2 linked regions of the Homo sapiens genome follow. The protein of the gene in region 1 interacts with the protein of each later gene in a pairwise test. Each region holds a gene or a part of one and is shown on either strand. Other genes may lie near its edges.

Evidence for each region.
Region 2: the proteins of SLC9D1 (region 1) and GLP1R interact in a protein complementation assay, tested with the Homo sapiens proteins (one study listed by BioGRID).

Annotation. Positions count from the first base shown.
Region 1 is NC_000013.11:113,528,912-113,532,728, reverse strand, and holds part of SLC9D1 (transmembrane and coiled-coil domain-containing protein 3 isoform 1 precursor), read right to left. Parts: exon of another isoform or gene 2,106-3,817; intron 1,389-2,105; coding exon of another isoform or gene 1,052-1,388; exon of another isoform or gene 1-1,051. UniProt on the Homo sapiens protein: Probable Na(+)/H(+) antiporter.
Region 2 is NC_000006.12:39,083,059-39,086,875, reverse strand, and holds part of GLP1R (glucagon-like peptide 1 receptor precursor), read right to left. Parts: intron 971-3,817; coding exon 803-970; 3' UTR 1-802.

The sequences.
Region 1 (3,817 bases):
AGAGAGAGGCCCCTTTCTGCAGCCCTGGCAGGAACGGAGACAGACTCACGGCCAAGCAGACCAGGCCTGCCGCACTCCTGACAGCTTTGCCACACTGCCAGGCCCACGTCTGGCCCTGGGCCCAGCACCGTGGTCCCTGCCTGGGCTGCCACCCCTTCCCCCACAGCTCCAGTGGCCTCCTCCTGATCCATCTGCTCTCCACACAGAGGCCCAGACAGCTCATCAGGACCCTCAATCAGCTCCTGGACGCTGGGATGGAACCCAGGCTTCTCTGCCCTGCCATGCCCTTCCACTGCCCCAGCCCACCCACACAGGCCACAGAGCCCCTTGCCTGGGAGGTCCCTACCCTAGACTCTTCTCCCAACAGGCTTAGCTGCATTCCTCAAATTCCAGCCACATCTCCAAAGGTAGAGCCTGTGCGTCTGGGGGCTCACGGCTGCTCACCAGCTCCTCTTCCTGTTTGAATCATTCGCAGGGCGGTTCCCTGCTGCGGATGTCTTGTCTACCACTCATTTGTGCATCATTCATTCATTGCCTCTCCAAAACACAACAGCAGCTCCCCACATGGGGAACGTCCTCTGCTGAGCTCACCCTTGCATCCTGAGCCCCTAGAGCACTGTGTGCAGAGCACTGTGTGCCACCTATTATGGCAGCCTGGTAAGAGCTGTACGATCCCCACTGCTACGTCACAGATGAGAACAGGGGCAGAGACCAGGTGATCTGCTCCAGGCCACACGCCCAGTGCAGAGAGCTGGGGACAACTCAGGTATCTGGCTCCAGGACCAAGCCCCTAACGGCTACACAAGCTCTCCACAGCCACCATCCCCAGGGTTTGGATTTAGGTCTAATTCCCAGAAGACTCCCACAGTGTCCATTAAATGCACAGTGATGAGGGCTCAGAAAGATGCCAATCAGAAGCCACAGTGCGCTCAACTCTGACCTCTTTGAAAGACAATCACCGTGACAAGTTTCTCAGGATTCCGGCTTGCCGCCGTGCCACCGGCAGGTCCACGTGCGTGCTGCTCTTGATCTGCATGTACGGGGCGCCGTGTCACCTGCAGGTCCACACGCGTGCTGCTCTTGATCTGCACGTACGGGGCGCCGTGCCACCTGCAGGTCCACACGCGTGTGCTGCTCTTGATCTGCATGTACGGGGTGCCGTGCCACCTGCAGGTCCACGCGTGTGCTGCTCTTGATCTGCACGTACGGGGCGCCGTGTCACCTGCAGGTCCACACGCATGCTGCTCTTGATCTGTATGTACAGGGCGCCGTGCCACCTGCAGGTCCACGCGTGTGCTGCTCTTGATCTGCACATACGGGGCGCCGTGTCCACGGCTGTTCTGACTGTCTCAGCGTGTTTGGACAAGCTTCCCATCAGCACATCTGACCTGCGGACAGGTGAGTGGACAAGCTTCCCATCAGCACGTCTGGCCCGCGGACAGGTGAGTGGACAAGCTTCCCATCAGCATGTCTGGCCAGCGGACAGGTGAGGAAGGGCTCCCTGGCGGGACGCACCATCATTTGCTCAGCCAGATGCAAGGGCTGTCCCGGTTCTCACACTGACTCCACGGCCATCCTGGTTCTTGGGCGCTGCGGTGACCAAGGAGCCTGTGGGTCCACTGATGGTGGCAGTGGGTGCTCACTAAGGGAGCCGGGTGCCTCCCACTATGACAGGTGCTGTCTGGTGGGCCGCCAGGAAGTTGCTCCAATTCCCATCCCAACAATGATGCCCAAGGTACCCCACTTCCCAACCTGGGCACCACCCAGCTTCTAATGGTGCCCAGTCTGATGGGCGGGTGGTGCCATCACCCTTCTTTGGTGTGAGGGTGGGTGTTTCCTACTTTACTCAAGTCTAATAGCTGCTTTGCTGCTGACCTGTTTTCAAACTCAGTTATTCATATTTTTCTTATTAAGGTATAGGAGACCTTTATAAAATAAGAAACATAAGCCTCTGTCTTTAATATGGGCATAAACATCTGTTTTGCTTTATTACAGCCTTCTGTGTTCTGTTCTTTACCTGTGAAATATTTTGAGGGAAAGAGTTCTTTCCTCTAGGAATGATCAAGGTTAATTCTGAATAAAGCTTAATAAGAAAGCAGAGTCTATTATGTTGCAACTAATTTTATTTCTTTGATATTTTAAATATAAATTTTCCCTCGTTATTAAAATTGAAAGGGAGGTTTTCCTAAATTACAGAAAAGTATATATAGTAGAAAAAACTTAGTACAAATCTACCAGTCTACTAGTAGAAAATCATTAACACCTTGTTATATATACATATATATATTTCTAGTCTCTATTCATGTTCTTCTATGTCTAATTAAAATATCGTATATATTTTTAACAGCTATGATATATAATTCACTTACCATACAACTTACCCATTTAAAGTATACAATTCAATGGTTTCCAGCATATTCACAAAATTACACAACTATTACCACAATCCATGTTAGAATACTTTCATCATCCCAAAAAGAAACCCTGTACCCATCAGCACTTCCTCCCCATCTCCCCCAACCTCCCCACCCTCCGGCAACCAGTAATTCATCCTGTCTGTACGGACTGGCCTAGTCTGGACGTTGGTATGAATGGAATCACACAGCGTGTGGACTTTTTGTCCGGTTCTTTCAGAAGCATCGTGCTTCATCTGTGCTATAGGATGAATCAATGTTCATTCTATATTATGGCTGAATAATATTCCTTTGCTGAATATAGTATGTTTTGTATATCTACCTGTTATCTAATTGACATTTGAGTTCTTAATACTTTTTAACTATACGAATAATGCTGCTTGAACATTCAGGTACAAGTTTTTCATTGTGGTGAAACTCTCATACAATAAAATGTACCATGTTAACCATTTCTGAGTGTGTAACTCTGTGGTATCAGGTGGATTCACACTGTTGTACCCCCATCACCACCGTGTATCAGTCTGAATGTGGATGTGTGTTTTTGTTTCTTGCGGGTAAATACCGAGGAGCGAACAGCTGGGTCAAATGGGAGCTCTGTGTTAGCGTCAGGAGGAACGTGGTCTACAATTCTGACTCTGTTTCTGTTTCTTTTGTTTTTTTTTTTTGAGATAGAGTCTTGCTCTGTCGCCCAAGCTGGAGTGCAGTGTCGTGATCTCAGCTCACTGCAACCTCTGCCTCCTGGGTTCAAGTGATTCTCCTGCCTCAGCCTCCCGAGTAGCTGGGAATACAGGCACGTGCCACCATGCCTGGCTAATTTTTTGTATTTTTAGTAGAGACGGGGTTTCACCGTGTTAGCCAGGATGGTCTCGATCTCCTGACCTCGTGATCCGCCCCCCTCAGCCTCCCAAAGCGCTAGGATGACAGGCGGAAGCCGCTGCGCCCGGCTCTCAAGCCATCTTCCTGCCTCAGCCTCCCAAAGCGCTGGGATGACAGCGTGAGCCGCTGCACCCGGCCCGATTCTGTTTCTTAAGTTTAACAGCATTACAGAGTATTTTTCCAAGTCATCAACTCTTTGTAAACATGAAGTGTCATGACTGAATTAGAACAATTTCGGTGGGATCAATACCTGTACTGCATTAATTTTTTGAATTGGAAAAAAGGGAAAAAAAAGCTTTAAAAGTGTTCTGATTAAGACAATGTCTTATGCCAGCATGTTAGACCTGCGTGTAACTGGAAAGAACGTGGCAGTGAGATCAACGTGGTGTTTGAGTTTTACAAATGCCCTGCAGTCTCTGCCAGGGCTCTGCTTGTTTCGTATGGAGAGTCCGCCCTCCGTTGAGAATAACTGGTTGTGCGTGGAAAATGCTCAGACCTCTTAACTAGAAGTCATCTCCGGCTAGCAT
Region 2 (3,817 bases), on another chromosome or scaffold:
AGCGTCTTTAAAATAGACTTGGCAGCTCATACCCCAGGGCTGGGTTCCCCGGTGGCAAGCCTGCCCTGATTCTCTGGGCATGGCAGAGGCAGGCACCAAAACAACTCAAATACCTGGAGGAGAAGCGAGCACCGTCTCAATGCTCATTCTTTCTCAACACCACCTACAGCCATTTCCAGAAACAGCTGCTGGCAGTGGCCCAAACAAAGCCCCTCAAAAAGAAACTGGGCAGTGAGATGAGGGGGCAAGATGAGGGAAATAAGCAACCCAGACACACAAACAGCTTCCCTTTGAGAGAAGACAGGGGAGGGTGGTGACCCCAAGTGATGCAAGCAGAGGAGGCTCCCGTCACTCCCGCTCTGTGTTTGGCTGAGGTTAGAAGAGCCACTTTCAGAACCACCTCCTCTTGCAAGCCCCAGTTTCACTAATAAGCCGTTGACCTTGAGTTTGAGTCTGGGGTTGATTTGCGGCTCTGTCTGGGGGAACCCCAAGGGCCTGTGGTTTCACAAGAAGCAATCCTCCTCATTTTCACAGCGATCGTTTTTCCTCTCCTCTCGCCACTGTGATCAAATTAGGAGGCTGCTTCTCCTAGGAGAAAATGTGTCCATGGTCCCAGGAGGCACTGCCCATTTACCTGTCTGATGGGTTTGGGGAGGGAAAGCAGGATGTATGTGTGTGTGTGTGTGTGTGTGTGTGTGTGTGTGTGTGTCCCTTCCTTCCCTTGTCCCTGGGAGTGTCTCTCCCACCTGGATTGGCCACCCGGCCTGCAGCAAGGACCCCAGGGAGGGCAGGCGCTGGAGTCTCAGCTGCAGGAGGCCTGGCAAGTGGCTGTGTACATGCTGCTGCCCGCCGTGGCTCCACTGCTCAGGCTGCTGGTGGGACACTTGAGGGGCTTCATGCTGCTGTCCCTCTGGATGTGCAAGTGCTCAAGCCGCCAGCGCTCCCAGCTCTTCCGAAATTCCAGCTGGACCTTCCATGGGAAAAGGAGGGAAACGAAAGCCATCATGCAAACCAATGGCTAACAAAATGGCCCCACTATTACATTAGTGGGGAAGGGAAGAAATCCACTGCATTATATTAAGAGACACAAGTCAAGGCCTTCGGGCTCCTAAATTAATATCCCAATAAAATTGTTTATTGTTGTCTCCTATTTTCTGCAGCTCCTCAGGAGAGAGATCAGCTTGATGACCTAATTGGTCTTTTCCATCTCTAAACTCTGTGATTCAGCTAAGTACCTTTTACAATCCATCACAGTATTATTTAACGGAAGAGAATGAGAGGGAGGGTGAAACACAGGGAGACAGGAGATGGGAGAGAGAAGAGAGACTCTGTCTTTACAGCGCACAGTCCAGTTTCAGCTTGGATGCTTGAGAAGGGGGACGGCAACCCCCAGCCTTCCTGGTGTCTACAGCAGACCCTTCTAAACTCCCTGAGGGCTTCTCTCCAGGCCCCAGCACCTCACAGGGGAGGAGGGAGGGAAGGAAGGAATGTGGCTGAGACGGGAAACAGCAGGGAGGAAGGGGCAGCCAGTGAGGGCTTCTCAACTGATGCCATCTAGAGAGACACTGCAGTGACCATGGGGGTGCAGCCCAGGGGAGCTCAGTCAGCCAGGATCCCTGTTGTGCTGGGCTCTGGCCTCCCCATCAGGAAAAGCCTCTCAGGAGGGCTGATGCTTGGGGGCCAGATTGTTGGGGCAGAAAGAGACAAATCCAAGTAACACTGTGGAGCCCCCATCCCTTGAGGGTTTGTGGCAATGCTGTGGCTCCCGGTGGTGGCCAGTGATTCTGGTCCCTGGAGAGGCCTAGCTGGAACCTGCCAAGCTAGTCCTGGGGGGTCTGGACTGCTCTTCTGGGTGATGTTCCCATACATTTGCTTTCCAGAGCTTCTTTGAAGTCCCCACCCTTCCCACACCAGAGTGTCTGGGGTCTGGGCCCTTCCCTTTAGGCCAAGTCACCAAGACAGCCAGATGCCAGCGGCTGTGGATAAGGGGCCAATCTCCCCACCAGCCCCTGTGCAAACAACCCTCCTCTCCTCCTTTGTCGTCCATCCAGCTATGCCCAGCAAGACGCCTGGTATGGCTGCATGCCATCCCTTAAAAGAACATTTTCTGCACTGAGTAGAGTTGAGATGGCCCAGAGGCTGCCTGCCAGGATGACGCCAGTGTCCCATGCAGCGTCATGAACCCAAGCTTGAGTGGGGGAGGGAAGGAGGCTGAGCAGACACCACCTACAGCCACCCTGTTGTATGCCAGCTCCCTGCCCGGCTGAGTCTTTGTGAAGGGAGCGCATGCTGACAGCTGGGATGGGGGCCCTGAGTCCAGTGGTGGCCCCCACTTGTGCAGCTGCCAGGAGGCCAGGCTTGTTTCATAGCCCTTCCGCTGGAGAGGGGGGGAAAGATGGTAAACTGAGGCACACCTCCGGGAAACCAGAGACCAAAGAGAGGTTTCAGGGACACCTATGGGACTTCTCAGGGTGCTGACACACAGTGTCTCCTTCTGCCCCCATCTCCTTCAGCACTTTTCCTGAACCTCTGCTGTGACCCCTGTAATCACGATTGTCCTTGAAAATCACCATATTTATTGGGCACTTACTGTATGCACAGAATTTTCCATTAATTATCTTAGCTGACTTTCACATCAACCCTGCAAAGTAGCTCCACATTTAAAGATGAGGAAACTGAGGTGCAGAGTGTTTATTTCCTCAGGTCGCTCAGCCAGGATTTGAACCTAGATCTGGCCTGATTCCAATGCCCGGCTCCTAACCCCTGGCCTCCTGCCTGCGTGGCTCTTGCAGTCCTGCTTGTCCCTGGTCCATCTCCTACCTCTCACCTGGGAGCACCTCGAGGGCTGGGACCACATCTTCTTCATCTCAGCATCCCTGAACCTAGCACAGTGCCCAGCATACAGCAGGTGCTCAGTACATGTGTTTTAAATGAACCAAATGAATGAACACATAAATGCATGAGCATCTCACATCAGGTTCCTTCTGTTCCTCAGCTATGAAAATGAACCCACAAAGACAACACCACAGATTCTGAGCACCTGGGCTGGGACTTAGGCCACCACACTTCCTCCTCCACCATCGGATTTTTATCCTCATCCCTGCCCTCGACCTCTGCAGTGCAGCACACCCCTCCTGACCTCCCTCTCCAGCAGGCACCATGCCAGCCTCAGGATTCGGGGTGAATTGGGAAGCTCATTCACCTTCATTTACGGCTGGGGAGACAGAGGCAAGGGAGGCAAAATGACTTGCCCCAGGTCACACAGCTCGGCAGTGGCAGGGCTGGGACAAGCACTCAGGGCTCTGAGTCACCTCACTGTGGCTCTCAGGCACAAGCTACAGCAAAACCACCTTCAGGCCTCCCCCTCCCTGTCCCCACTCACGCCCACCAGCAGCTGGTGCAGGCCTTGGCAGCCACACAGAACCAATATTCAAGCCATCTTTTCTCCTCAGGTCACAAGTACCTGGCATTGCCATGGCAACCCTGGGTCTGCAGAACAGCTCTTGTGGACAGAGGCCTTAGCCCCAGAGCCACATGTGTCTTTTGTGGCCCAGTGACAATGATGTATCTGTCCTTGTGCCTGGAGCAGCCAGGGCATGAGGAGTCTCAGGGTGGGTTTAAAGGAACTGGCTGGTGCTCTGAAGGGAGACAGGTTCTCCCGTTCTCTGAGCAGGGTCTCCTGGACCCCGTGGCACTAGCCTGGAAGATCCACGGGGAGATGCTAGCTGGGGTCTGTAGCCAGGCCTGGTCAGAGAGGTGCAACCCTGGTGATTCAGGATCAAGTTTTTTTCCAAGGGCAAAGAAGTACTATCCCCTT